Linked DNA regions of Homo sapiens: all the other regions are linked to region 1. The links come from fine-mapping of genetic effects on gene expression. A gene starts in region 1. Each other region holds a variant in brackets. All regions are shown on one strand. Distances are between the middles of the regions.

Region 1 (10,312 bases):
ACAAGTAAAAATCATGATTAAATTAACAGAAATCAGGGAAATACAAATTAAAACAAAGATATGACACTGTTTTTTTTTTTTTGAGACGGAGTCTCACTGTCACCCATATTGGCCAGGCTGGTCTTGAACTCCTGACCTTGTGATCCACCCACCTCGGCCTCCCAAAGTGCTGGGATTATAGGGATGAGCCACCGCACCCAGCTTTTTTTTTTTTTTTTTAAGACAGAGTCTCCCTCTGTTGCCCCGGCTGGAGTGCAGTGGCATGATCTCAGCCCACTGCAACCTCTGCCTCCTGGGTTCAAGTAATTCTCCTGCCTCAGCCTCACAAGTAGCTGGGAATACAGGTGCCCGCCAACACACCCAGCTAATTTTTGTATTTTTATTAGAGGTGTTGGCCAGGCTGGTCCCAAACTTCTGACCTCAGGTGATCTGCCCACCTCAGCCTCCCAAAGTGCTGGGATTATAGGTGTAAGCCACCACGCCCGACCAGATATGCCATGCCACTTTTAATGCATCAGAGTGTTAACTACCAGAAAGTTTGATAAATCAAGTGTGAGTGAGAATTTGGGAAGGGGACTCTCTCATATAATGCTGATGAGAATGTAAACCAGTATAACCAATTTGAAGGGCAATTTTGCAGTATTTGTTAAAATTTAAGTATATATATCCTATGAGCCAGCAACTCCATTTATTTATATTTAGCCTGGTCCATTACTGACATATGTATATAAGAAGGCCTGTAAATTTAATTCAGTTATAGCCTTGAAAATAATCAGTCTGGCCGGGTGCAGTGGCTCACACCTATAATCGCCGCACTTTGGGAGGCTGACGCAGGCGGATCACCCGAGGTCAGGAGTTCAAGACCAGCATGGCCAACATGGTGATATCCCATCTCTACTAAAAATACAAAAAAATTAGCTGGGCGTTGTGGTGGGCGCCTGTAATCCTAGCTACTCAGGAGGCTGAGGCAGGAAAATCGCTTGAACCTGGGAGGCGGAGTTTGCAGTGAGCCGAGATCTAGGTATTACACTCCAGCCTGGGCAAAAAGAGCAAGACTCTGTCTCAAAAAAATAAAAAAAAGAAAAGAATCAGTCTGAAACAGACTAAGCGTTTATTAGCTGGAGACTGACTAAACTATGATGGTGTTTCCCAAAGAGGGAAAGACAGCACTAATGGTACAAGAGATTATTTTAATTGGTACACTAACAAAGACTCCTCTCTTGATCAAATTAAAGTCAGACTCCTTTAAAGCTCTCTTCTGACTAGGGCTCTTCCTTGGCCTGCTGACCTCAGTTTTAAAAAGGAATCCTAAGTCAGTTCACAGAAAGTTTTCCCACTCTTGATATCCAATCCAACTTGATATCTAATCAAGTTCCTCTTCTCCCCAAGGAAGACTTTATTGAAGACTACTGTAACAAGAGTCAAGACCATTGTAATAGAGTAGAGAGACTGAACTTAATTCCGAATACAACAGGGACAAGTGAGAATTTATAGAAAATTACTAAAAGCAACTTGGTTAGGTATGGGGGTGGAGCGGTGGTTGATTTCTTTGTTAAAACTGTGCTCAGCAGGCCACGGATGAGTCCTGCTGAAAAATGGGACTCTTTGGGGAACCTGACTAAAGTTTAGCCAAGGAGGGAATGCTTGTCACTGCTCTGAAAGATAATCTCAGAAACACTGAGCAGGGTTTAAAAAGAAGCAAGTTGCAAAAATGATATATACAGCATAATATCATTTAACTCAAATATTTTAAATCACAAAGCAATGTTGTGTTTTCCTCAGATATGCATGTATGTGTATAAATGCATTTAAAAAAGAGTAGGAGGGCCAGGCGCAGTGGCTCACGCCTGTAATCCCAGCACTTTGGGCCGCCGAGACGGGCAGATCATTTGAGGTCAGGAGTTCAAGACCAGCCTGGCCAACATAGCGAAACCCTGTCTCTACTAATACAAAAATTAGCCAAGCATGGTGGGGCATGCCTGTAATCCCAGCTACTGGGGAAACTGAGGCAGAAGAATTGCTTGAGCCCAGGAGGCAAAGGTTGCTGTGAGCAGAAATAATGCCATTGAACTCCAGCCTGGGCAACGGGAGGAAAAGATATGCCAAAAAAGGTAACTGTGGTTACTTCTAAGAAAAGGACTGAGGCTGGGCACGGTGGCTCACGCCTGTAATGCCAGCACTTTAGGAGGCTGAGGCGGGTGGATCACTTCAGGCCAGGAGTTCAAGACCAGCCTGACGAACACAGTGAAACCCTGTCTCTACTAAAAATACAAAAAAAAAAATCAGTCGTGCATGGTGGCACATGCCTGTAGTCCCAGCTACTTGGGAGGCTGAGGCAGGAGAACCGCTTGAACTCAGGAGGCAGAGGTTGCAGTGAGCCAAGATTGCATCACTGCACTCCAGCCTGGGTAACAGTGAGACTCCGTCTCAAAAAAAAAAAAAAAGAAAGAAAAGAAAAGAAAAGAAAAAAAAAAAGAAATGGACTGGAATTGGGGATGTTATCAAAGATGATTTTATCGGGGGCCAGGCACGGTGGCTCACGCCTGTACTCCCACCACTTTGGGAGGCAGAGGCGGGTGGATCACCTGAAGTCGGGATTTCAAGACCAGCCTGATCAACATGGAGAAACCCCATCTCTACTAAAAATACAAAATTAGCCGGGCGTAGTGGAACATGCCTGTAATCCCAGCTACTCGGAAGGCTGAGGCAGGAGAATTGCTTGAACCCGGGAGGCGGAGGTTGTGGTGAGCCGAGATCGCACCACTGCATTCCAGCCTGAGCAACAAGAGCGAAACTCAGTCTCAAAAAAAATAAAAAGATGATTTTACCCTTATTTCCTATGTTTTAATTTGCTATTGGAAGAAGTAATTCCTATATAATGTGTAATTACACAACACGTATAAAAAAAAAAAAAAACTTAACACCTTTCCTGCAGGAATTTCCCTTCTAATACCCTTATGCACTTGGCCTGATCCAGTTAAGGCTCACAGAGATAAAGGGCCAGCGGGTATAATTTTTTACCATCCTTGATGACAAGACATTCAGAATTCTTTCACCATCACCACCACTTTTCTATTCATTGCCCAACTCATTTCCATGGTCCTAGCACAAAATACTCACTGGTGGAAGGAGTGAGGATCATCCACATCGTGGCCATCGGGGGCCAAAGGGTTGGAGAACGGCTCACCTGACAAAAAAAATTGACGTTAATTTAATCAGTCTCTTACGTGTCAGATCCTATGCAAAAATTTGAGATATAGTAGTGAACAATACAGAACAAAAGTTAGAACAGCGACAGTGTCAACACAATGTAATAAGTGCTGAAATAGGAAACTACAAGAAGCTGTGGGAGCACAAAGCAGAGGACCCTAATCCTGCGCTGGAGGATCAGAGAAGACTTCCGGAAGATCACGTCTAAAATACTACGTAAAAGATAAATACGCGCAACCCAGGATTAAGTATGGGGACAGGACTGGGGGAAAGCGATCCACGCACAAAAGCCGCCCATCATCACTTGGAGTAGGAGTGAGGACTGGGGACGGAGTTTGGAGCTGTCGGCCTCACTTAGGACCCTGTGGCTTCTCCGGGCTCAAGCGTCACACATACATACATACACACACACACACACACACACACACACACACACACACCCGGCTTAAGCTCAGAAGCTACAATAATGCGCCAAGTGCCCCAAGTGCCATGGGGAAGAAATAACGGATGGCCTGAGCCTTACTATCTCGCTCCGGCATTTTGTTATCGTTCTTTCGCTGTCACCAACAATCGAGTCTCCAACAGCAACACCGCAGCGACAAGCTCTTTCCCACAGTGCACCTCAGAATCAACCCACACTGCTTTGCGTTCGCAGCCTTTCCGCTTCCTGTTTTTCCCTCCGACCAACCCCGAGCGCAAAGAAATTGACCTCGCAGCGGTCCTACAATACTTTTATATCATTGGCCAAGCTTTACCCCGCCCCTGCCTCATGCAGCCTATGGGCTAGGCTTTAGGGTCCGCGGTTGGTCAGACCGGAGCACTTGGCCTGAAGACCTGGAATTGGCGACTTCGATATTAACAAGGATGGCGGCGGCCGCAGCAAGTCGAGGAGTCGGGGCAAAGCTGGGCCTGCGTGAGATTCGCATCCACTTATGTCAGCGCTCGCCCGGCAGCCAGGGCGTCAGGTGAGGCGCGGCGTGGTGAGGCGGGCGGGCTTCGGGACGCCAGGGTCACGACCTCGACCTCCCTGAAGTTGAGGGAAGCCCCCGCCCACAGCACGCGCGGCGCTCTCTCCGGCCCCGCAGGGACTTCATTGAGAAACGCTACGTGGAGCTGAAGAAGGCGAATCCCGACCTACCCATCCTAATCCGCGAATGCTCCGATGTGCAGCCCAAGCTCTGGGCCCGCTACGGTGAGTGCGGGACGCCAGGGGTCTGGGGCTCCGGTAGGGGAACAAGGGTTTGAGAAGAGAAGGGACCGCCCAAGGTCGTGCAGAAACCCGTGGAGAAACTAGAACTCGGACTTTAGCCTTGCTGTTGATCTTGTTTCCATGAAGAAATTTATATTCGCAGGGTTATATGATGCGTTGTATTCCGGGCAACATAAGTATGCAGGCTGACCGAATCCTGCGTAGGGACCAGGAGCTGACGTTTTTGTAGTTAAGAATGGGCTTCAGACAGGAGAGAAGTTAGTCAATATAGTTTCTCCAAATAACGTGTAGCCAGTGTCAGTCCAGGTAGTGTGTGAGAATCTCAGTAATTTTGCACATAGAGCTGGGCCCTGTGCTGAGTGCTTCCCTGCCTAACTCATTTAATCTTCATTAGTTAGGAGGAAGCGTGTTCTTCTTTTCTCACTGTAGAGATTAGAAAACGGAATCAAAACTTTGTTTTGCACTATTGTTAAACTCTAGCTGCAACTTTAGATGCAGCTAGAGTTTAACAGGATTGAGCCTTTACATTTATTCCCCTTCCTAGAATGCACTTACCCCTCTAAGACTGGCATGGCAATGTATTGCAAAATGAAATTTTCCTATCATGTTGCCTAACACATTGTAGGTATGCAATAAATGTTTATACATACTGAATAACAGGATTTTAATCACAGCTTTTAACTATATGGTGCCCTGGGAATGACGGGAGGAGGTGGAGGAGAGTGACCACCTTAAGCAGATTGGTTCTCAGAGTAGATATCTGTGAGACACAGTAGACATTAGACATGCACTAATAATTGGAGAAGGAAAAAAGCTTCTCCTTCCAAAAGCCAGTAGACTACAGGAGGAGATAGACACGAGTAACTTTAGTGTATTGTGCTGGGTATTATGTTAGATAGCCTATGGGAGCCTAGAGAATGGGTACCCAGCTGGGTGCGGTGGTTCACGCCTGTAATCCCAGCACTTTGGGAGGCTGAAGCAGGTGGATCACCTGAGGTCAGGAGTTCAAGACCAGCCTGGCCAACATGGTAAAACCCCGTCTCTACTAAACATACAAAAATTAGCCGGGTGTGGTGGCGGGCACCTGTAATCCCAGCTACTCAGGAGGCTGAGGCAGGAGAATTGCTTGAACCCAGGAGGTGGAGGTTGCAGTGAGTGGAGATCGTGCCACCACACTCCAGCCTGGGTGACAGAGCGAGACTCCGTCTCAAAAAAAAAAAAAAAAAAAGAGAGAGAATGGGCTCCCAGCTGAGGCTGGACCCATGCAATACATTGCTCACCGTAGTTAATAATAAATGCCTACAGTGCCCCCGAAAGCTTCCCTGAAACAACCCATTGCGGCCATCCAGAATCAGCCAAAATTCTATTTGGACTTGGGCTTCCTAGATGTGTTTGAGACCTATTGTATTAATTCTAGGCATACCAAATGTATTTTGATCATATCTCTTTAATACTCTTCCTGTCTTAACAAGACTAAGATAAAGACAAAGATCTTTTATTTTACTTTGGTAGCCTCCAGGGTGCAGAATAGTTAAAGACACCTCCCTCTCTCTCTTCAGCATTTGGCCAAGAGACGAATGTCCCTTTGAACAACTTCAGTGCTGATCAGGTAACCAGAGCCCTGGAGAACGTTCTAAGTGGTAAAGCCTGAAGCCTCCACTGAGGATTAAGAGCAACAGCCCCAGAGCCTGGGCTCTGCTGGACTTAGTATAATGTGAAAAAAATGTGTTCTCCTATTCCTCATAAAGCTTGTGCTGTAAAATACTTTCTCAGGGTGTTCTTGTCCTCATCTACCCTCTACCCCTTACTGTGCAACCACTGAGGCAAAGTAGCTTAATATAAAAATAAAACTTTATTCTGTCTCATCAAAAGCTACCAGCTGCTGAAGCAAACATGAAGGGTGGCGGGGGGGCAGGGATTCTAGGGCCCCAGAGTAAGTAGACCACACTGAGTCCCTTTTGGTCCTCCTGCCTGGATAGTGCTGAGTGGAAGGGGAGGAGCTGGGACCCAAAGGTCTTGGCTTAGGTGTGGGAGCAGAGAACATGAGACCTCATTATGGTCCTAAATCTCCAAAGGCTCTACTGGACAAACAAGCTTGATGTTAAGAGAGAGGGGAATGAGTGACATTGAGAAACAAGATCACCCTTGAAGAGCTGTCTGCTGGAGAGCATACACACGATCCTGGAGCTGGGCCTCTTCCTGATGCCTTTCCAGGGCTTGCAGCCCTGACTGCTGCAGGAAGACCTGAACAGCCTAGGGGCAGGGAAGAAAATTCAACACACCTGGTCTCTGTGTCCTAAGACTCAATTCCCACAGCCTCATGGGTCAGCCTACTCCAGAGGGTGCATTCCCCAACAAGAGGATGAAGTTTCTGACATGGAACCTATATAGGTTAGCCAGGCCCAGAGAAACAACTATAGTTAGGACTGGATGGGAAGGGAGCCACTGTGTGGCTTCAGAACAGGGGTGACTGAGGATGTGGGCCAGAAACCTATACCTCTGGCTGATACAGGAACAGCAGATGCAGCAGCTCCAAACTCTGGCCTACTACTTCAGTGTCAGAAAAGGCTAGTGTGTGCAGCAAGGCGGGAAGCAGGGGCCCTGGCCACAGCCGCTGGCAGTAAGCAGGACCCTTTTCTGCAACATTGCACAGAACTGTGAGCACCTGCAGATAGACACATATATAGTCTACAAAGAATGAAACACAAAGATCATAACAATAGCTAAAATATATGACATGGTGACCACATGCCCAGGCACCATGCCAAGCTCTTCTACATACATGTTCTCATACTCCTACAACTACCCTATGATGCAAGATTATCCTCAGTTATAAGTGAGGAGACTGAAGCTTAAGGTGGTTAGTTGATTTGTCCAAGGATAAATAATCCAGTTTAAGGGACACACACCTAGATTGGTTGGGCCCTGAGGCCACACACCACCACCTGCTGGCTCTCAACTAAGGGTACATCTGAGGGCTCAGGACTGCTGTCCCATACAATCCGACTACCAGATCTTGGATTCAAGTAACCCCAATACATACCATTACGCTCACCACGTTAGATACTGGCAACAGCTGTAAGAGAGGCTCAATCAGATCCAGGGAGAGCAAGGAGGTACAGAAACTAGGACTGTTTGCTGGAAGAGAAGTACCAGGGTGAAAAACTGCTTTCCCCCACCACCCCTGTCAATACTACCCACCTCAGCCTAGGCCATGAGGAAATATCCCCATTATCCAAATGTCCAGGCCTGGGCAGATTATGGTGCGTACCAGTGAGGTTGTTGAGGAGCCAAAGGCCCTCAGGGAGCAGACTGGGCTGTTTCTGGAAAAAGAACTGCAGAAGGATAAATAAGGCTGCCACAACACGCTCATCTCTGAGCTGCATTTGCCCTCCCACAGTCTCCACTGCTGCCTCAGTTAGCAGGTTGCTTAGACATCGAAGCACGGGGCATGCCAGCTGCAAAGACAAATTGGGGGGTCAGGTGTAAGAAGGAAGAGGTTACCTGCATTCCAGAGTATCAAGAAACATCTCCCAGAATTTCACCTGACATCTTCACCTACCAGCTCCAGTCCTGCATCCTCGGTTTTCTGGACAGCCCCAGCCAAGTCCAACAGCAGCAACCCCAGAGTAGACAGAGCCCCATGGCCAATGAGCAGAGGATTGCTGACCTGGCTGGGCAACAGGAAGCAAGCAGTCCCTAGGTATATAGTCAATTCCACCTTTAAGAAGAGAAGCAGTTGCCTAGGCGTGGTGGCTTATGCCTGTAATCCCAGCACTTTGGGAGGCTGAGGTGGGTGGATCACCTGAGGTCAGGAGTTTGAGACCAGCCTGGCCAACATGGCGAAACTCCGTCTCTATTAGAAATACAAAAATTAGCCGGGCATAGTGGCACGCATCTGTAGTCTCAGCTACTCAGGAGGCTGAGGCAGGAGAATCGCTTGAACCCGGGAGGCAGAGGTTGCAGTGAGCTGAGATCGCACCACTGTACTCCATCCAGCCTGGGTGACAGAGTGAGACTGTCTCAAAAAAAAAGAGAAACAGCTAAGGTCTGTGGGTCTCCTGGGCTCCAAAAAGAGAAGACAGTGGAGGGAGGAAAACTCACTATAGCAATTCCAGACACAAGTTCAAAGAGTTGAATGTCATGGAAGGGAGCCCCAGGGAAGATCTGTGGTACTTTCCCAATTGCCCTGTTACCTGCAGATGATGTAATGAAGGCACCAGGCAAACTCCACAGCGACCCCAGGGTTGAGCTTTGGGCCAGGTTGCAACATTTGTAGCATGTGCTGAGGGAGAGTGGAGGCCAAGATGGAGCTGCTGGCAGAAGCAGGGCTGTAAGTAGGAACCACGAAGATGCCAGTGGTTCTTACCAAACCCTGATAGCAGGTGGGAGAGTGTCCAAACCCAAAGCCCTGCCCAGATGGGAAAGTGTCCAAACCCAAAGCCCTTCCTAGCCAGACACATGAATTTAAAATGTGCAACAGCTTTGGAAATCATTCAGGCATCCGGGAGCTATACTACTGAGTGGGTCACCTCTGGCTGCACATCTAAAGACAATTTTACTCACGGAATGATCTTCTCTGGAGCTTCCTCAGCCTGTAGAAGCTGGGACAAGGCATATCCGAGAGCTTCCAGCACAGCCACATGGGGGGACTGGAAGTAGACAGGGTAAGGATCTGACTGGAAGCTGGGTCATCAGGTCTTCAGAGACTTTCAGCCCCTTGGCACAGGGCAGAGGCTGGAGCTACCTAACCAAAGTAGATGGAGCATGTGGGGAGGAGCAAAGGAAGGGTTGCCCAGGGAGGAAGAAAGGAGTCACCTGGATGCAGGCAGCCAAGGCTGGAACAATGCCCTGTGGCAGGAGCTGCCTTCTCACAGCCTCACTCTCCACGATCAGGTTACCCAGTGTATACAGACACAGCTCCTGAGAACAGGCAACAAAAGCACTGGGCTTGGCCTGTTTCATGCCAGGCTGCGTGTGGGGAGATGGGGAGGGGAGGTGATGGGGACGCTGGAGCAGCTATCCTTGCGGCTCACAAGAGGGTGGGGAGATGATGGGTGTAGCCATGGCTGTAGGCATAAGGGCAAACATGTTTTCTTCCTCCTACCTGCCAGCTCAAACTGGTCCCAAAAGCACAATTTTAAAATCTAAACCAAGAACAAGATAGGAAGGGACAGGGCTTACTATGAAGTCTGAGCTGTGACTGGAGAGGTAGGTGAGGAGGTAAGAAGTGGCTGGCAGGCAGGCCTCAGCAACAGTGGACTGCTCGGAGTGAGAGAGCTCATGCAGGCACCGAGCCGCCTCAAGCTGCAGCAGGGCCTGGTTGCTGGTCAGGAGCCCGACCAGGGTCCGCATGCTGCCCTCCAGCCTATGTGAGTGAGTACCAGAGCCCTGCTTAGCTTGTGGTCCATCCCTCAGAGCCCCAACTCCTCCCTCCACCACACCATCCACACTGACCGGATGAAGGTTTGCTGTGTTTCAGGGTGCTGCAAGCCTCGACGAAGGCTGACCAGAGCCCCCTCTCTCTCCTTTTCCTCTGTCCCCCGCTGGGCTTGCCGCAGGAACTGCTGCACCTGGAGTTCAGGGCAGGGAAAGGAGAACACACGGTTCACAGAAAGCAAGTCCTAAGTCTCTCTCTGCCCACTTCACCTGTGAGCCTTCCAATATCACACCTTCAGAACTTGTCATTCACACTAATGCAACTAATAAGCATCTACCTTGCAGTGGAGTGGACAGAGAATCAGAACTGAGTTCTAATACCATACCTGCCACTTACTCCATATGGGACCTGAACCTAAGTTTCCTCACCTGAAAATGAGAATAACAATATCTATCCTGCCTTCATACAGGGTTCTTTCAAGGATATTTAAACCTCTCAGCCTGGCAAAACCT
Region 2 (10,312 bases), 880 kb after region 1:
CTCCAGTCCCGCAACACCGTTTCTGAGGCCCCTCTGCAGGCCCTGCCCTTGGAAGGGGTTGGACCGTGGTCCTTGGATGGCAGCCCAGTGGTCAGTGAAGATGCCCCCCAAGGCCAGGGGCAACAGCATCTTGAAGTCTGAGAGAACTTACTTCCCCATATGCGCTACACTGCCCCAGACCCTAAATAGCCTGTGGCACACCAGGGAGAGAGCCAGACTCCAGGGACAGCCAGACCTTGCACCAGCTGGGAAGAATGTTATAGAAAGGAAAGCAGGCTGCGGGGCGCGGTGGCTCAAGACTGTAATCCCAGCACTTTGGGAGGCCGAGGTGGGCGGATCACGAGGTCAGGAAATCGAGACCATCCTAGTTAACACGGTGAAACCCCATCTCTACTAAAAATACAAAAAATTAGCCGGGCGTGGTGGCGGGCGCCTGTAGTCCCAGCTACTCGGGAGGCTGAGGCAGGAGAATGGCGTGAACCCAGGAGGCGGAGCTTGCAGTGAGCCGAGATTGTGCCACTGCACTCCAGCCTGGGCGACAGAGTGAGACTCCATCTCAAAAAAAAAGAAAAGAAAAGAAAAGAAAGCAGGCCTGCTTCCTGCCTGCACTCCTGCGCTCAGGCTATTCAGGGCCTTACCCACCACGGCGGCTCCACCACAGAGGGAGTGCCCAGGGGTGGGGCAGCCCCGGGTCCCCAGGCCCGCAATTCCTCACCCTAAAATAGAGACTCCGCCACCCGGGCCAGTCACAACATGGGACCCAGCACAAAATGAAAATGTGGAGCTTCTTGTTCAAAAAGCAGGAGGGAAATGCCTAATAATAAAGGCGCTAAAATATAAAAGTATCTATGTATCTGTACCTAGAGATATATAAAGCTTCGCTTCTTTTCTGTTGGTCTGCCTCTAGATTTGTCATGAGTTTGTATTTGTTAAATATCATTTTAAGTAAAGAAAAATGAAAAATCTAAATGACTAGCATGAATTTTACTATTCATCTTTCTATTGTGCAATGTCAGTTTTAAATGCAAATATAAGGGTGTTTAACTCATATGCAGAATCATCAAAATCGTATAATTTGTATTCAGTACCTTGTGCACACATGTGTATTTCATCTTACCTGAAATGGTGGGAAAGGGCACAAAACTTACTCAACTGTTTTCATTTCTTTTCTTGACTTATGCACATTCTCTCAACATGCTCTGCTTTTAGCTTATGATGTGTGAGGAGGGGCTGAAAGGAAAGGAACTACAGGTTGCCTGATCTGTCCCTGTCCTAGCTCATCATGATTAGTGTCAGCGGTTGGCTTATCCAGCGAAATAACATGAGGAAGAAGGCTATAGCAGGGTTCCTGGGCCATTCATGTTTTTTTGTTTGTTTGTTTGTTTTTTTGACACGGAGTCTCGCTCTGTTGCCCAGGCTGGAGTGTAGTGCCGCGATCTCAGCTCTCTGCAACCTCCGACTCCCCAGTTCAAGCAATTCTCCTAATTCTCCTGCCTCAGCCTCCTGAGCAGCTGGGATTATAGTCCGCCTGCCACCACGACCAGCTAATTTTTGTATTTTAGTAGAGATGGGGTTTCACCATGTTGGCCAGGCTGGTCTCGAGCTCCTGACCTCAGGAGATCCACCTGCCTCAGCTCCCCAAAGTGCTGGGATTACAGGCGTGAGTCACCAAGACAGGCCCTGTTCATGTTTCTTAGCACACAATTGCCTTCTTCTTGCATCTGGCAAGTTCTGGTTGAAATGGATGGTGAGGTCCCTCAGGGCTGTCAGCGTTCCTCTTACTCAGTTGTAGACATAACAAGCTTACCTTACACTCACTTTGAGTCTTGCTGAGCCCCCACATGTGGTGGGGTCATCAGAATCCTGTGCTCACGGGCATCACCAGCACTGCATGCACACAGGAGCCCCAGCCGGCCCGCATGACACCCAGGTTCTACCTCTCTGTGTACCGCATGCTCCACTGTCCCACTGGACCCCACTTACAAAACACAAGTTCAAAGATGAAATTATGAGACATTTCAAGACAGCTACAGCAGAGCATTAAGGTAAGCAGGCCCTGGTGAGCATGGGGCCCTGTGTGACCCCACGTCAATGAAGCTGCCCCACCTCCACCCTCACCGCAAGCCAGATGGAAACTTCCAAGGAGGACTGTGGCTGGCCCAACTCAGGGCACTGCCCCCCACTGCCACCATCAGTGTCTTGAGTCCGAAGTGCAATGACTGACCCAGCCTGGGTCACAAGGCCACCCATGGCCAGGTAGGAGGTGAAGGTGGGGCATCTATGACTCACTTCACCTTTAGGGAACAAAGGTGTGTCCCTGAAGGGCTGGGCAAGTGCTGGACAGATGAGAACTCAAGCCACCACAGTCCCCTGCCCATAGGTGAGGTTCAGTACAGGAGGGCAGTTCAGGCAGGGGAGAAGTCTTTATAATGAAGGAAGGTGGGAAGCCTGAGGAGCCACAAGTGCTACAGCCTGGCTGCCCCCCACAGAGGAGCTGGGAGAGATGAGGGCATAGAGGTAGCAGGTCACATGGAGGCCCTGAGTGCCCTCCATTGGGACTTATCGCACTCTGACCATGCCACCCCTGTCTAGAAGCTTCTCTGGATTTTTGCTGTCAGGAAAATACCCACAGCCCTATCCCTGAGGCCTGAGGCCCGTCCTCCTCTCCCCCAACCCCCGCCGCCACCTGCTCTGCTGCAGCCGTAGCCCTGCTTGCCCTGGGTCTTAGGCTCTGTGCCTGTTCTTCCCTTTGCCTGGAGCCCTCTTCCCACCATGCTCCTTCTTCAGACTATGCACACTCCCTCTGGGTCCTGGCATGAATATCACCTCCTTCAGGAAGTCTTCCCCAACCCACCAGGCTGGGTCACAGGCCCTGTGCTTCTCCAACATCACTGCCTGGTGACTCATCTTCCCCTACCCTCCACCAATGACAGAATTCCATGAGGGCAGGGACTGGCTCCTGTTCAGGGCAATAGCCCCAGACCCCAACACGTAGTAGGTGCTCAATAATGTTGTTGACTGAACGCATGAGTTCACAGGCTGTGGGAGTCTGGACTCTGCATGAGCTACTGTCTTGTCTTACAGATCAGACAGTTAGTCCAGGGTGGAGGGACTGAGAGGCATGATGCACCCACCATGTTGCAGGCCCGATTGGCTCTTTACATTCCTGACCTCACTTTTTTACTCCCATCCAGCCCAGGAGGGAGGGAGGTGTTGTTTTTTTTTTTTTTTTAGATGGAGTTTTGCTCTTGTTGCCCAGGCTGGAGTGCAATGGCTTGATCTCGGCTCACAGCAACCTCTGCCTCCCAGGTTCAAGCAATTCTCCTGCCTCAGCCTCCCAAATAGCTGGGATTACAGGCATGCGCCACCAAGCCCAGCTAATTTTGTATTTTTAGTAGAGACGGGGGTTTCTCCATGTTGGTCAGGCTAGTCTCGAACTCCCTTCCTCAGGCGATCCACCCACCTCGGCCTCCCAAAGTGCTGGGATTACAGACTTGAGCCACCATGCCTGGCCAAGGAAGGTGTTTTTATACCTGTTACACAAATGAGGAAACAGAGGGCAGTGAGTGGGTCACATTCTCTTTTTATGCCCTCCTCTCCCCCACTACACACATCTAAACCGCAGCCAGGGTGACCAGCCCACTGGCCTCTCAGCCTGGAGTCCAGAGGTCCTCTTTTCTTGGCCTGTCTGGGAGAGAACTCTCTCCCAGCTGGGGCCTGTCCTATCCTTTCTCCCTCCTCTTCCTCCCCCTCCCCACTTCCTTCCTTCCTGCTGTAGGATATTCCCTTTGCAGGAAAGGTTCCAGGTTCCGGGGCAAGGCCCCCAGGTTCAGCTGCCCAGGCTGGGACACGTGCTACCTCCATCAACCAGCCCCTTTGCCCTCCCTGGCGGGGGGCCAGATATCTGAGCCAGGCCCAGGGGACAGGGGAGCACTGCACAGGGGACAGCTCAAGGTCTTCTTGTCCCTCTCTCTGCCTCCAGCCCTAGCTGAGGCAGAGGACTCTGGAACTCATCCTGGTGCCCTGGGGTCAGGCACTAGACCTGGTAGGGGCTTTGTCACTCTGCCTGTGAGCTGGTCATCACTGAGAGCCTCTGAGCAAGAGCCTTACCTCTGTCAAGCTGGTATATAACCTCTTGGATTGCATGTGCTGAATCACTTTGCACAGCACCTGGCACAAAGTGAGTGCTCAGTTAACATTATTAACAGCTCCAATCATTGTTATTATTCTCTCCAATATCATCCTCATCTGACTGAATCTTTACAGCTCTCCTGGGAAGTAGGTAGAGTTTTGATCCTCATTTTATAAATAAGAAAACTGATGCTTACAAAGACAGGAGGGGCCAGATGCCGTGTCTCACATCTGTAATCCCAGCACTCTGGGAGGCCGAGGTGGGCAGATCACTTGAGATCAGGAGTTCGAGACCAGCCTGGCCAACATGGGGAAACCCCGTCTCTACTAAAAATACAAAAATTAGCTGGGCATGGTGGTGCATGCCTGTAATCCCAGCTACTTGGGAGACTGAGGCATAAGAATCCCTTGAATCCGGGAGGTGGAGGTTGCAGTGATCTGAGATCGTGACATTGCACTCCAGCCTGGGCAATAGAGTGGGATTCTGTCTTTAAAAAATAAAAATAAAAGGAAGAAAGAAAGAAAGATGGTGGCTGGGTGCGGTGGCTCACGCCTGTAATCCCAGCACTTTGGGAGGCCGAGGCAGGCGGATCACGAGGTCAGGAGATCGAGACCATCCTGGCTAACACGGTGAAATCTGTCTCTACTAAAAATACAAAAAAAATTAGCTGGGCAAGGTGGCGGGTGCCTGTAGTCCCAGCTACTCGGGAGGCTGAGGCAGTAGAATGGTGTGAACCTGGGAGGCAGAGCTTGCAGTGAGCCGAGATTGTGCCACTGCACTCCAGCCTGGGTGACAGAGCGAGACTCTGAGAAAGAAAGAAAGAAGGAAAGAAAGAAAGAAAGAAAGAAAGAAAGAAAGAAAGAAAGAAAGAAAGAAAGAAAGAAAGAAAGAAGGGAAGGAAGGAAGGAAGGAAGGGAGGGAAAGAGGGAAAGAAGGAAAGAAAGAAAGAAAGAAAGAAAGAAAGAAAGAAAGAAAGAAAGAAAGAAAGAAAGAA[G/AGAAAGAGAGAAG]GAAGGGACTTGCCCAGACTCAAACCCAGGCCAGTCAGTGCTCTTTATCACCTTACTATCCTGATGCCTACCCCTCTATTCGCCCTAGAGCAATTCTTAACCTGCTGGGTGTCTCAGTTTCCCCAGCCAGGCAATGGCGAGGATGGAGGAGGCATCTCTAAGGACCTTTAAGTCTAAGGGAACTTATTAATCCATCGAGGTGGGGCTGCTGGAATGGGCACAAAATCACAGATCTAACCATGGAGGGTCCTACAGGCCAAGGTCACCTAAACTCAGGACAGACTGCAAGAGTCTAACCTGGGTCCCTTCTGCTCTAGCTCCATCCATTTCCCCCATACACAGAGGAGAGAAAACCCCATATTGTGGGACAGGGAGAGGGTGCCCCCCACCATTCCAGGACTGCTGAAGACTGAGAAACAGGCCCAGGCAGGTGAAAAGAAGGCTAGGCGCTGGTAGACGGGCAGAGGCAGAAACAGAGTCATCGAAGGGTAGGTCCATCAACAAGTATCCCATGAAAGGCTTAGGGCCAGATAGAACTGCCAGGCCTGGAAGGGAGGCCTCACCCTACTGCCACCAATCCTGTATCGCCCCCTTCTACAAACAGCACATCGAATCACAGCTCAGATTGTAGACTTCCTGAGTTCAGATCCATCTGTTAGTCCTTCATCTGTGGACTCAGCGATCCACCCCCACCACCATTCTGCTCCGCGGTCCCTCTCCCCAGGCCCTGGTTCCACACCTCCCTACCCAATGTTCTCCCTTCATCCAGACCCCAGGCTCTCTACCCAGCCACCACAGAGGGGCCTGGCTTGCCGTCACCCCATCGCCGCCAGCTTGAGGACAGGCCCAAAAAAGGAGGACAGGGAAAGAGAGAGGGAACGAACGCACCACCCCGGGCCAGAGCGGCGTCCTCTCATCGGCCTAGGAAGCTGTACTGCTCAGCAGCCACCAGAGGGCGCGCGCCCCTTCTCAGAGCCAAAGCCACGACGGCGGCGGTGGCGGCGGACCCGGAGGGGTTTGCAGAAGATGCGGGGCAGGGGTGCGGTCACTCCGGGAGGAACCCCCCCGGAACGCAGCCGCACCCTGGGCTCGGATTCAGCCCTTGTAAGAAGACGGCCTTGGATGCTGCCCCTCGACCCTCTCCCCAGCCGCGCCCCGCGCTTCGGTCTCCTGCTGACTACTCGCTCTCTCCCCCTCCTGGCCGCTGCGAGCACTGCGGCCCGGCGGAGCTTGGGCTTGGAGGGTGGGAGGTGGGCAAGGGGGCGAATGGGGATTTATCTGGAAATAATGTGGCAAGGGGCTGCATGGTGGGAATATACTGGGCAGAACGAGATTGTAGTGGTTAGCACTAGGTGAACAGAAGTACGAAGAGGTGGGGAACTACAGTGGATGTGCAGGGTACTGGGCCGATTAATAGGAGGGCACTGGGGGCCACCGGGCAGGTACTGGGGGCAGTGGGTGGTCCCTGGGGGCTATTTAAGTGGTACCAAGCCTAAACTGGAAAGAGGGCGCTGGGTGGTTTCCTGGTGGTAACGGGGGCCCTGAGTGCATGTTGGAAGTACCACTGCGTAGGCACTGGGGGTACTGAATAACAACTGGAGACATTGTGTGCTGGGAAGAACTGGAAGGCAGTGTGAAGATAGCGAGCAGAAGGGGCACTGAGTGGGAACCAGGGGTGGGAGGGTCACGGAACCCGCAGTGGGAAGTACTGAGTGGGTCTGGGGATATGGCACAACTGAGAGGGTGAGGGGGCGTTGGAAGGGTTCGTGGCAGGTACTGGGCATTATCTATGAGAAGTGGGGACATGGGTGGACATCGGGTGGGTCATGGAAGTCACTGGGGTCACACTGAAGCCCTGGAACAGTATGGCACTTCCCTGGCTGTGCCTCAGTGCCCCTCACAACAGCGCCACTTTCACAGCCAGGACTTAGATCAGAAATGTCCCTTCGCCAGTGAGGGTATCCTGCCCTGACCAGAACCTATTCCTGCTTTCCTGGCGGGTGTGGAGGGTGCTGCTCATAGACAGAGGACAGGCTCTATTATCTACCTCCCCCAGATGAGGTGGGAAGTAAAGGCAGGTCAGCCCCTTATCCCTAGAAAATAAGGAGCCCCCTGCTCAGCCCCTCCCATCAGGTTTCGGCCTCCTGGCCCAGCTTGCTGGCTGCTGGGCCGGGAGGGGCTGCCAGGCTCGGCCTCCTGCCCACTGCGGGGCGCCGGGGGAGGGCGGCGCGCGGCTCGAGATGCCGCGTTGCCATGGAGACGCTGCCGCATCCTGACTGCTCCTGGCAACGGGGTCCCGCAGCCAGGCAGGCGCTCGGCGGGGACCCCAGGGAGCGGGCGCGCCAGGCTGCCCACGGCGCCGCCAGACCCCCGGGACACGGATATGGCTCCCCCACCCACAGGCGCCCCTCACTCACACTCCCAGGGGCACACGGATGTACGTACGCGCCCCAGCTGCAGCAGCCCAGGCGGAACTGCAGCCCAAGCCCTCCCTGCAGCCCCCACTCATTAATTCAGCAAACATTTGCTTACGGTCTCAGTGCCAGGCGCGAGCTGGCCACTGCGGTTGTGGCGGCGACAAGTCACACGGGGACGCTGCACTGCCCCCCTCCCTCCCCATCTCGCAGCCCGCAGGGGAGGCAGACACAGAAACAGTGTGATCAATACTGTGACCCCAACAACAGCCACCCGCTGACTGTGTGCTCAGCCCTCCTCATGCAGGATCTTGCCTAAACTGTAAAACCCTTGGGAAGCACTGTGAGAACTCCTTTTCACAGATGGGGAAACTGAGGCACAGGAGAGCTCATCTATTCACCAGAGGCCATGTAGTCAGGGTGAGGCAGAGCTGGACTTCCCAATTGGATCTTGGTGACTTCCCCAGACTACCTTTGCTGGAGAATTTCCGAAGCACAGATGAGGGAGGACCCAACTCAGCTGGGGAGGCAGCAGAGAGAATTTCAGACTCAAGCTCGGGTCTTGGGAGAAAACGCAAGTCGACCAGGCATAGCAAGAGGCAGGAACACTAGGCTGAAAGAACAGCTGGTGCAAAGACCTGGAGAATGTAGACTGGCAGGCTGGGTGTGAGAGCAAAGGCAGAAGATGTGGTTAGGAAGCTGCTTGGAGGCCAATCCTGGAGGCTCGCTGTGCCAGGCCGAGGGGACTGGCCTCCATTCCGAGAGGAGCAGGGAAGGTGTGAGCAAGGGAGGGCATGCCTGACTATTGCTCTGGCAACCCTGGGGGTGAGGGGCTGGCCCAGGGCAGGTGAAGCTGGAGCTAGGAGACTAGAGCACAGGCCATGGTCATCATCCCAGCAAGGGACAAGTGGGCCCACTCGGCTTGAGTCCAGAGTGGAAGTAGGACACGGCCTTCTTGCCTTCCCCGGCAAAGATCCTTCTGCCTGATTGGGAACCCAGGGAATGACCCCAGAGCTAGATGCCTGACAAGGTGGGCACCCCAGGGGGAGCCAGGGCTTAAAGACAGTGAGCGCAGTGAATGAAAACATGCTTCAGAGTGACGTGAAGAACAACTGGGCTAGACTCCTGGAAGGACTTCCCAGGAGGAATGGGTGTGAGGTTCAGAGAGAGGCCAGGAGATCCTTGAGAAGAAAAGGAAGAGTCCCACACACCTCACACATCTGGAGGGAATAGACAAGATGTTTCTTCCAGACCCCTCCTGCCAGGGTTATTCCTCCCTGGGCCCGCCCAGCAGAGCCTGTTCAGGCACCCCACTGAGGAGGCACAGCATCCGGCCCCTAACCTCCCCCTCACCCAACAAGGTTAGCCTAATTTTTTTCCTTCCGTGGATTCAGGTCATTGCTCCCTGTCCTCTCTCTGAGGCGCTGCAGAATGTGACTAATTCCCTCCCTTCATTTATGGGTCCTGTTACCTGGAAGGTATTTATAGCGCAACAGCCTCCCTCTCTCCCCAGCGACTCCGCTGCTCTCCCCCCAGGCCATCTCTCCCCACTCTGCCAACCTTTGCCTCCCCTCTCTGCTGCCACAGCCCCACCACCTCCCCAGCCAGGCCTCCTGTCCTGCCATCCCCCTGGCAGGAAAGGGGGCTGGCTCTGCCGGGAGGGGTCTGCCGGGAGGGGTCTGTAGCCTTTCTGAGTGGAGTACTGTCTGCAGGGTAGATGACCCTCCTCTCTTGGACACGCTAAAAAAGGCCATCTAGGGCCAAGCTAGAAGAGGGTGACAATTGGTTGACCCCTCTGTGACCTCAACAAGCAACCTGGTACTTCAACTAACAATAGGCAACAATTATTGAGCGCTCAGCATGGGCAATACAGGGGATACCTGGGTCTATACATAACATTTCTTTACTTAGATAGGCATTGTGGTGCACACCTGTAGTCCTAGCTAGTCAAGAGGCTGAGGTGGGAGGATCGTTTGAGCCCCAGTTTGAGGCTGCAGTGAGCTATGATTGCGCCACTGCACTCCAGCCTGGGCAACAGAGCAAGACCCTGTCTTAAGAAAAAACGAATGAAGGACTGGGCGTGGTGGTTCATGCCTGTAATCCCAACACTTCGGGAGGCCAAGGCAGGTGGATCACCTGAGGTTAGGAGTTCAAGACCAGCCTGACCAACATGGTGAAACCCTGTCTTTACTAAAAATACAAAAATTAGCCAGGCATGGTGGTGCACACCTATAGTCCTAGCTACTTGGGAGGTTGAGGCAGGAGACTTGCTTGAACCCAGGAGGCGGAGGTTACAGTGAGCCGAGATTACGCCACTGCACTCCAGCCTGGCAACAGAGCAAGACTCCGTCTCAAAAAAAAGATAAATAAATAAAAATAAAAATTATTGAATGCTTACTATCTGTCAGGCATTATTATTATCCTTGATTTACAGCTATGGAAACGGAGGCTCAGAAAGGCTAAATGACCCTCCTCAGGTCCTCATGGTTGGGATGAGGTACTCCTGGACAGCTGCCTTCCAGAGCCCTGCCTGGTATTGGGAACTCACCTTAAAAGGCAGGCAGGGTGAGGGCTGCAGACAGCCAGGGGTTCCTGACCAAAACATATATCACAAAGTCAACAGTGTCCCCACTGGTCCTAAGCCATGGATGATCTCCCTGAGCAGTCAGGAAACAGCACCAGATGGAGGCCGGTGGGCTATTTAACACTGCCTGTCGCACACACATCTCCTCCTCCAAGCAAGGGTCATGGAAAGCAGAGGTTAGGGGGTGC
Region 3 (10,312 bases), 110 kb before region 1:
GGTGATAGATAATCTTAATCTAAAACTTTAAAAGAAGCATAAAGATCGTAGGTATTTTAATCTCTTTGAAGCAATTGTGAATGGGAGTTCACTCATGATTTGGCTCTCTATTTGTCTGTTATTGGTGTATAGGAATGCTTGTGATTTTTGCACATTGATTTTGTGTCCTGAGACTTCGCTGAAGTTGCTTATCAGCTTAAGGAGATTTTGGGCTGAAATGATGGGGTTTTCTAAATATACAATCATGTCATCTGCAAACAGGGACAATTTGACTCCTCTTTTCCTAATTCAATACATTTTATTTCTTTCTCCTGCCTGATTGCCCTGGCCAGAACTTCCAACACTATGTTGAATATGATTGGTGAGAGAGGGCATCCCTGTCTTGTGCCAGTTTTCAAAGGGAACGCTTCCAGTTTTTGCCCATTCAGTATGATATTGGCTGTGGGTTTCTCATAAATAGCTCTTATTATTTTGAGATACGTCCCAACAAGACCTAGTTTATTGAGAGTTTTTAACTTGCAAGAGATGTGAAGGACTTCTTCAAGGAGAACTACAAACCACTGCTCAACGAAATAAAAGAGGACACAACCAAATGGAAGAACATTCGATGCTCATGGATAGGAAGAATTAATATCGTGAACATGGCCACACTGCCCAAGGTAATTTATAGATTCAATGCCATCCCCAACAAGCTACCAATGACTTTCTTCACAGAATTGGAAAAAACTACTTTTAAGTTCATATGGAACCAAGAAAGAGCTCGCATTGCCAAGACAATCCTAAGCCAAAAGAATAAAGCTGGAGGCATTATGCTACCTGACTTCAAACTATACTACAAGGCTACAGTAACCAAAACAGTATGGTACTGGTACAAAAACAGAGATATAGACCAATGGAACAGAACAGAGCCCTCAGAAATAATACCATGCATCTACAACCATCTGATCTTTGACAAACCTGACAAAAACAAGAAACGGGGAAAGGATTCCCTATTTAATACATGGTGCTGGGAAAACTGGCTAGCCATATGTAGAAAGCTGAAACTGGATTCCTTCCTTACACCTTATACAAAAATTAATTCAAGATGGATTAAAGACTTAAATGTTAGACCTAAAACCATAAAAACCCTAGAAGAAAACCTAGGCACTACCATTCAGGACATAGGCATGGGCAAGGACTTCATGTCTAAAACACCAAAAGCAATGGCAACAAAAGCCAAAATTGACAAATGGGATCTAATTAAACTAAAGAGCTTCTGCACAGCAAAAGAAACTACCATCAGAGGGAACAGCCAACCTACAGAATGGGAGAAAATTTTTGCAATCTACTCATCTGACAAAGGGCTAATATCCAGAATCTACAAAGAACTCAAACAAATTTACAAGAAAAAAACAAACAACCCCATCAAAAAGTGGGCAAAGGATATGAACAGACACTTCTCAAGAGAAGACATTTATGCAGCCAACAGACACATGAAAAAATGCTCATCATCACTGGCCATCAGAGAAATGCAAATCAAAACCACAATGAGATACCATCTCACACCAGTTAGAATGGCGATCATTAAAAAGTCAGGAAACAACAGGTGCTGGAGAGGATGTGGAGAAATAGGAACACTTTTACACTGTTGGTGGGACTCTAAACTAGTTCAACCATGGTGGAAGACAGTGTGGCGATTCCTCAAGGATCTAGAACTAGGAATACCATTTGACCCAGCCATCCCATTACTGGGTATATACCCAAAGGATTATAAATCATGCTGCTGTAAAGACACATGAACACGTATGTTTATTGCGGCACTATTCACAATAGCAAAGACTTGGAACCAACCCAAATGCCCATCAGTGATAGACTGGACTAAGAAAATGTGGCACATATACACCATGGAAGACTATGCAGCCATAAAAAAGGATGAGTTCGTGTCCTTTGTAGGGACATGGATGAAGCTGGAAACCATCATTCTGAGCAAACTATCACAAGGACAGAAAACCAACACCGCATGTTCTCACTCATAGGTGGGAATTGAACAATGAGAACACTTGGACACAGGAAGGGGAACATCACACACTGGGGCCTGTTGTGGGGTGGGGGGAGGCGGGAGGGATAGCATTAGGAGATACACCTAATGTAAATGACGAGTTAACGGATGCAGCACACCAACATGGCACATGTGTACATATGTAACAAACCTGCACGTTGTGCACATGTACCCTAGAACGTAAAGTATAATAAAAAAAAGAAGCATAAAGATCAATAAATTTTATGTCAGCATTACAAATGAAGTGGAAAGATGGAAGATTCGGCCAATTAGGTATTACCATAAAATATATATATGGGGTGTGTGTGTGTGTGTGTGTGTGTGTGGTATGTGTGTGTATACACCATAATAATCAAAGGTGGACTCCAAGTAGATTAAACACAATATGGAGGTAAAGCAATAATGTTGATAGAAGGAAATATAGGGTGATACCTTTAAAACATAGGGGCAAGAAAGGACTTTTAAAATGAAACTTCAAACATAAGGCAAAAACAAATACATAAATCTCATTATAATTGTGTATTCAAGAGTATGTATTAAGCACTTCTTATGTGCTAGGCACTAAGGCTGTATATTAATAGTACATATAGATTATAAATACCACTCGTCACTAAAAGGAAACAGGGCTTTTGGGAGAAATTACTCACCTCAGGATAGTGGTGACAAAAGTGCAAGAAGAAACGAATATCTGTTTTTTCTTCAGAAAGTAAGAAACTGCTCAAAAATTATGGGAATACTTGTAAAAACACCACAGGAAACATGTGAAGGGTCTCCCACTGGAAAAATATGATACAGTTTGAATACCACAGTGAATAATGACAGTAATGCATTATAACAAAATGCATAAAACAGAATCCATATAATAATGACTAATAATGGATACTAATGAATACATTAATATGAACAGATGTAAATATGGCTTAAACAGGGGTAGGGGAAATGGGAACATTTTTTACAGAAGAATGCCAATTAATACATGTAGAATAAATGACCATTTGAAAGTTACTATTTTTTAATCATCATAGGAATAATTGATTCAGACAAGAATCTTCAACAAATACTAAAACATTGGGGTAAAAGCTTATTGGTGATTAGTTTCAATGTATCTCCCTACAAATTAGTTATTAATTACAAGGAAAAAATGGTATATTTGCAGTTGAGAAACTTGGTGAACATAACACTAATCAAGTTACATCACCAATAATGAGACAAACTGACATTATGTATCTTCCAATGTGCTATACTGAGAAGTCATAATATTAATTTCTGCTGCGATTATAAGGAAATAATCAGACAAGCTAAAACTCAGGATCGTTCTATAAAACTATTGGTTTTTGTACCCTTTAAAATTTGTTAATATCTTCAAAAATAAAGAAAAGCTAAGAACCATTTCAGATTAAATAGGGCTAAACAGACCTAGGAACTAAGTGCAATGTGTGATTCTAAGTCAGAGAAAAAAATTCCATCAAATATATTATTTGGAAAATCTGTGAAACTTTAATATGGGCAGCATATTAGATAGTCAAATTATAATAAGATTAAATATTCTAATTTAATCATCATGCTGCCATTTTGAGGTGTATATTCTTGTTCTTGAGAGTTACATGCTGAAGTGTTTCAATATGAGGTAAAAGGATTTAATAGCTGTAAAATTCTTTTAACATTGTAAAAAGCATTTAACAATTAACATTTTACCATACACAGTCTTTCTCTGTGTGTGAGTGTGTGTGTGTATCTATAGATAGATATAAATAGATACAGATCTATTCCATATATCTCCAAATGAATATACATAGTGAGAGAGAGAAAGAATGTGGCAAATGGTAGCTTAGATTCACCAACTATATAAACGTTCATTGTCCTGTTTTTGTAAGTTTTCCATGGGTTTGATATTTTTCAACATTTGAAAAAATATTCATAATCTGATTATTTTATTTTCCCCACCGCTGCCACCCTGGTCAAAATTATTATAACCTTTCATTGAGGTCACTGAAATAGCTCTTATTGTATCCTCCTGCTTTTACCCTTTCCTCCTACATCATATTTCTAATATGGCAGCCAGAGTAATCCTTTAGCCACATCACTCCTGTGCCAAAAAGAGTAGCTCTAGCTTCCTATTTCCCTCAGGAAAGCAAAGACTTACAGTGACAAAGAAAACCCAAGTTATCTGTTTCTTTTATTACCACCTTGGCCTCATTTCCTCCTAATAATTATTATCTCTCTGATCCAAGCACACAGACGTCTCTGCTACTCCTTGAACACAATAAGCATTCTTCTTCCTTAGGGCATTTGCTGTAGTTTTTCCCTCTGCCTTAAATGTTTTACCCCAAGAAAACAGCTTGGCTAACTCCCTCACATCCTTCAAGTTAGATATAATTTCTTAATGAAGTCTATCCTGATTATTCTATATAGCTCTTTAATATTGTGACATTCATCCCATCTCTCACAGATTTCTGATTCTCTTAATCTGTTCTACTCTTTCATTATGCCAAAGCACATTTTATCTTCACCTTAATGAATATAATTTCATGCCACTGCACTTCAGCCTGGGCGACAGAGCAAGACTCTGTCTCAAAAAAAAAAAAAAAAAAGAATTTCCATGCAAATGGAGACTGTAAGAGAGCAAGAATAGCTGTACTTACATCAGATAAAATAAACTTTAAGTCAAAAACTCTAAAAAGAGACAATGAAAGTCATTATATAATAATAAAAGTTCAATTCAGCAAGAGGATATAACAATTGTAAATACAAAAGCATCCAATATTGGAACACCTAAATATATAAAGCGAATATTAATAGATCTAAAGGGAGAACAAGACTGCAATACAATGATATTAGGGGGATTTGCTATCCATTTTCAGCAATGGACAGGTCATCCAGACAGAAAATCAACAAAGAAACTTCAGATTTAAACTGCACTGTAGACCAAATGGACCTAGCAGACATTTACAGAACATTCCATCCAACAGCTGCAGAATACACATTCTTCTCAACTGTACATAAAATATTTAACAGAATAGATAATATGTTAGGCCACAAAACAAGCCTTGACAAATTTTAGATTGAAATCATATCAATTGTCTCTTCTGACCACAATGATATAAAACTAAAAATCAATAACAGAAGGAACTTCAGAAACTTTATACATTCATAGAGAGTAAATATGCTCCTGAAAAACCAATGAGTCAATGAAGAAATTAAAAGACATTTAAATATCCCTTTTGGACAAATAGAAATGGAAACACAATGCACCAAAACTTATGGGATACAGCAAAAGCAGTTCTCAGAGAAAAGTTTATAGCTATAAACACCTACATTCAAAAAGAAGAAAGGTTTCAAATAAAGAATCCAACATTATACCTCAAGGAACTGGAAATACAAGAACAAACTAAATCTAAAATTAGGAGAAGGAAGTAATAAAGGTCATAATTTAGGTGAGATGAGGTGGCTCACGCCTGTAATCCCAGCACTTTGGGAGGCTGAGGTATATGGATGACTTGAGCACAGGAGTTCAAGACCAGCCTGGGCAACATGGTGAAACACCATCTCTTCCAAAAATGAAAAAAAAAAATAGCCAGGCGTGGTGGCAGGTGCCTGTGGTTTCAGCT[G/A]CTCAAGAGGCTGAGGTGGGAGGAACTCTTGAGCCTGGGTAGTAGACGTTGCAGTGAGCCAACATCACACCACTGCATTCCAGCCTGGGTGACAGAGTGAGGCCTCGTCTAAAAAATATCAGCATATAAATAAATGAAATAGAGGCTTGAAAAAAATACAAAAGAGCAACAAAATTAAGAGTTGGTGTTTTGAGAAAAAATAAAACCAGCCAACAGTTAGCTAAACTACCTAAGGAAAATAGAGAGAAGACAAACAAAACAATAATGAAAAAGGAGACATTATAACTGATACCACAGAAATAAAAAGGATCATAAGACATTATTATACAATTTTACACCAACAAATGGAATAACCTAGAAGAAACAGATAAATTCCTGGACACATACAACCTACTAAGATTGAATTATGAAGTTATAAAAAAATTTCAAGAGACCAATAATGAGTAAGGACATCGAATCAGTAATAAAAAGTCTCCCATCAAAGAAAAGCCCAATACCTGGTAGTTTCACTACTGAATTCTACCAACATTTAAAGAAGAATAAAAACCGGGCGCGGCGGCTCATGCCTGTAATCCCAGCACTTTGGGAGTCCAAGGCGGGTGGATCACGAGGTCAGGAAATCGAGACCATCCTGGCTAACACGGTGAGATCCCGTCTCTACTAAAAATACAAAAAATTAGCCGGGCGTGATGGCGGGCGCCTGTAGTCCCCGCTACTCGGGAGGCTGAGGCAGGAGAACGGCGTGAACCTGGGAGGCTGAGCTTGCAGTGAGCCGAGATCGCACCACTGCACTCCAGCCTGGGAGATAGTGCAAGACTCTGTCCCAAAAAAAAAAAAAAAAAAAAAGAAGAAGAATACCAATTATTCTCAAAATATTTCAAAATACTAAAGAGGAGAGAATACATTCAAACTCATTCTGCGAGGCCAGCATTACTCCGATATCAAACCTGAAAAAAAGCCCCCAATTACTCCAGGGGAAGGAGCAAGTTGAACTGGAAAGGAGCAACCTGCCCTCACCACATGCCTCTGGAATCTGGGCAGGAGGAGACCCCTCAACCACCATGGACACTTGAGTTGGCAGGGAGAGCTGCTTAGAGAAGTGGTAGGGGAAGCACTCCAGCTGGTGCAGAGCCCAGAGGGTTTGTTGTGGTAATGTCTGTAGTGAAGCATAATCAGGGATGCCCATCCCCCTAGGCTTGATTTGCTCCCATAAGAGACTTTAGCCCTAGGGGAACTGTTGGACATGAGCTCTCAGGGCAGTCTTGCCCACCAAATGAGGCCAGTCTGACGTGAGCACCCCTTTGCCTGCTGACCTCTCGCAGGGCCCCAGCCTGGCTGCACCTGCTTGCAATGCAGCCTCGAGTGCCCTCGGGGGGCTGCATCATAGCTCCTGCGCTGGCAGACTGCACCAGCCCACCCACTCCCTCCCCTCACTCCAGGCCCACAACCACCCCTATATTGCTGGAGTATATGTGCATGGGTGGATTTTACCTTCCCTGTCCTACCAGCATGTGTGTGCCCATGAACCCTCTGCTGCCACTGCTGCTGGGGTAAGTGCAGTCCACTCCACCACCTCCCCCATCATACTTCCACTGTAGTCAGAGTGCAGCCCAGCCACCACCAGCACCCTGCCCCAGCACCAACATTGTCACCAGAGTGAAACTAGGCAGAGAAGAGTGGACCCTCCACTGCCCTAAGTGACCACCTCCACCTACATGAAAACACACAGAAGGTGCACACAGTCCTGCACCTGCCAGCACCTTGCCCCCATGCTAACACCACCACCAGCAAACCACACACGCAGTCAGTCACCAGCAGGGACCCCAACCCCTGAGCCATGCTGTCTCTGCCACTGTTATGAATGCCCGAACACCCATGAGCACCAGGCTACAGCCAATAAGCATGTACCCTGCCATGCTGCTTCTGGCACATGCAAATGAGGATGGACCCCGCTGCCACTGCCTTATGAAATGCTTTGACTGTCACCACCTGTAGGAATGCTGAAACCAAAGATGCAGGAGCACCTCAGTCTACCCAGTGCAGTGAGTTCCTAACCTCAAGGAGCCAGAAAACAAAGTTGGGGTCCAGTATTGGTCCCCTAGAGTTAGAGCACGTAGTCCAGGAGTTGTGAGCTGAGCCTTGGCCCCCTGAAATCTTCCAGAGACAAAGCCGGTCAACTGAACCCACCTTATACCACAATCAAACCCTTGAGGTCATCAAATGGGATAAAAGAAAAAACCCATCAAAGGACAGCAACTTCAAAGATTGAAGAAACATCAGCCCACAAAGATGAGAAAGAACCAGCACAAGATCTGACAACTCAACAAGTGAGAATGCCTTTATTCCTCCAAACGACTGCACTAACTCTCCAGCAAGAGTTCTGAAAGAGGCTGAAATGACTGAAATGATGGAAACAGAATTCAGAATACGGATAGGAATGAAGATAATCAAGATGCAGGACTACATTGAAACACAATCCACAGAAGCTAAGAATCACAATAAAACAATGCAGAAGCTGCCAGACAAAATAGCCAGTATAGAAAAGAACATAACCAACATGACAGCTAAAAAAACACACTATAAGAATTTAAAAAAAAAAAGAATTTCATAGTGCAATTGCAAGTATTAATAGCAGAACAGGCCAAGCTGAGGAAAGAATGTCAGAGCTTAAAGACTAGCTTTCTGAAATAAGACAGTCAGACAGTAATCAATAAAAAAAGAATGAAAAGGAAGACGAAGACCTCTAAGAAATATGGGGTTATGTAAAGAAACCAAAGCTATGATGTATTGGTGTCCCTGAAAGAGATGGGAAGAATGGAACCAACTTGGAAAACATATTTCAGGATATCATCCATGAGAACTTCCCCAACCTAACTAGAGAGGCCAACATTCAAATTCAGGAAATGAGAGAACCCCAATAAAGATAGTTCATAAGAAGATAATCCCCAAAACACATAATCATCATATTCCCCAAGGTTGAAGTGAAAGAAAAGATGTTAAAAGCAGTTAGAGAAAAAGGTCAGGTCACCTACAAAGGGAAGCCCATAAGACTAACAGTGGACCTCTTAGCAGAAACCCTACAAGCCAGAAGAGATTGGGAGCCAATATTCAACATCCTTAAAGAAAAGAAATTCCAACCAAGAATATCATATCCACCTAAACTAAGCTTCATAAGCGAAACATAAGTAAGATCCTTTACATACAAGCAAATGCTAAGGGAATTCGTTACCACCAGACCTGCCTTACAAGAGCTCCTGAAGGAAGCACTAAATATGGAAAAGAAAGACCATTACCAACCACTACAAAAACACACTCATGTACACAGGCCAGTAACATTGTAAAGCAACCACACAAACAAGTATCTATAATAACCAGCTAACATGATGACAGGATCAAATCCACACATATCAATACTAACCTTGAATATAAATGGGCTAAATGCCCCAATTGAAGGAACAGAGTGGCAAGCTGGATAAAAAAGCAATACCTAAAGGTATGCTGTCTTCATCTGACCATCTCACACACAATAACATCCGTAGGCTCAAAATAAAGAGATGGAGGAAAATCTACCAAGCAAATGGAATCAGATAAAAGCAGGGGTTACAGTCCTAATCTCATACAAAACAGACTTTAAACCAACAAAGATCAAAAAAGACAAAGAAAGGCGTTATATTTTGGTAAAAGATTCAATAAGAAGATCTACCCAAATATGTATGCACACAACACAGGAGCATCCAGATTCATAAAGCAAGTTCTTAGGGACCTTCAAAGAGACTCAGACTCCCACACAATAATAGTGAGAGACTTCAACACCCCGCTGACAGTACTAGACTAAGCATCAAGTCAGAAAATTAACAAAGCTATTCAGGACCTGAACTCAGCACTGGATCAAATGGACCTGATAGACATCTAAGGAACTCTCCATCCAAAAACAACAGAATATACATTCTTCTCATTGTCACATGGCACGTACTCTAAAATCAACCATACAATTAGATGTAAACCAATCCTCAGCAAATGCAAAAGAACTGACATTATACCAACTACTCTTATACCAACCACAATGCAATAAAATTAGAAATGAAGACTAAGAAACTAGCTCAAAACCATACAATTTCATGAAAATTAAACAAACTGCTCATAAATGACTTTTGGTTAAATAATGAAATTAAGGCAGAAATCAAGATGTTCTTTGAAACCAAAGAGAACAAAGTTACAGCATACCAGAATCTCTGGGACACAGCTAGGCAGTGTTAAGAGGAAAATTTATAGCACTAAATGCCCACATCAAAAAGTTAGACAGGTCTTGGCTGGGCACAGTGGTCCATGCCTGCAACTCCAGCACTTTGGGAGGCTGAGGCGGGTGGATTACTTGAGGTCAGGTATTTGAGACCAGCCTGGCTAACATGACAAAACCCTATCCCTACTAAAAATACAAAAATTAGCCGGGCATGGTGGTGTGAGCCTGTAATCCCAGCTACTCAGGAAGCTGAGGCATGAGAATCACACGAACTCGGGAGGTGGAGGTTGCAGTGAGCCAAGACTGCCATTGCACTCCAGCCTGGGTGACAGAGTGAGACTCCAACTCAAAAAAAAAAAAAAAAAAAAGAACTACAGTACTAGGAGCAAACCAACCCCAAAACTAGCAGAAAACAAGAAGTAACCA

Which allele goes with the higher level. Alleles are on the strand shown, and positions count from the first base shown. SD is a standard deviation of normalised expression in the study named. Not every link is listed here.
For the expression in monocytes after LPS of the gene that starts at base 4,028 in region 1, allele AGAAAGAGAGAAG in region 2 goes with a lower level than allele G (large effect, 1.1 SD a copy in Fairfax 2014).

What was found. PIP is the estimated chance that this variant, and not a neighbour inherited with it, causes the effect.
Region 2: its variant is fine-mapped to the expression of NDUFA2 in monocytes after LPS (Fairfax 2014, PIP 0.95).
Region 3: its variant is fine-mapped to the expression of NDUFA2 in whole blood (TOPMed, PIP 0.90).

The regions. Positions count from the first base shown.
Region 1 is chr5:140,641,346-140,651,657 of GRCh38, reverse strand. NDUFA2 (NADH:ubiquinone oxidoreductase subunit A2) reads left to right here and starts at 4,028. Exons shown (of 3, transcript NM_002488.5): 1 at 4,028-4,175; 2 at 4,296-4,402; 3 at 5,980-6,373. The coding sequence starts at 4,075. The coding sequence ends at 6,071. TMCO6 (transmembrane and coiled-coil domains 6) reads right to left here. Exons shown (of 12, transcript NM_018502.5): 3 at 9,878-9,993; 4 at 9,605-9,788; 5 at 9,239-9,343; 6 at 8,987-9,072; 7 at 8,617-8,733; 8 at 7,983-8,094; 9 at 7,692-7,878; 10 at 7,464-7,558; 11 at 6,918-7,085; 12 at 6,254-6,673. The coding sequence ends at 6,560. IK (IK cytokine) reads right to left here and starts at 3,829. Exons shown (of 20, transcript NM_006083.4): 1 at 3,734-3,829; 2 at 3,121-3,187. The coding sequence starts at 3,749. MIR3655 (microRNA 3655) reads right to left here and starts at 3,814; the gene lies at 3,732-3,814. RefSeq lists enhancers at 3,755-4,290, 4,031-4,450.
Region 2 is chr5:139,761,643-139,771,954 of GRCh38, reverse strand. It overlaps a transcript of PSD2 not described here. Among named protein-coding and RNA genes, the nearest start is that of PSD2-AS1, 21 kb to the right of the region's middle. RefSeq lists enhancers at 7,658-8,321, 8,322-8,984, 8,985-9,648. The variant G/AGAAAGAGAGAAG (reference allele first, on the strand shown) is at 5,127.
Region 3 is chr5:140,750,460-140,760,771 of GRCh38, reverse strand. LOC105378198 (a long non-coding RNA gene) reads right to left here. Exons shown (of 4, transcript XR_001742904.2): 4 at 2,692-2,814. Among named protein-coding and RNA genes, the nearest start is that of PCDHA1, 31 kb to the left of the region's middle. The variant G/A (reference allele first, on the strand shown) is at 5,647.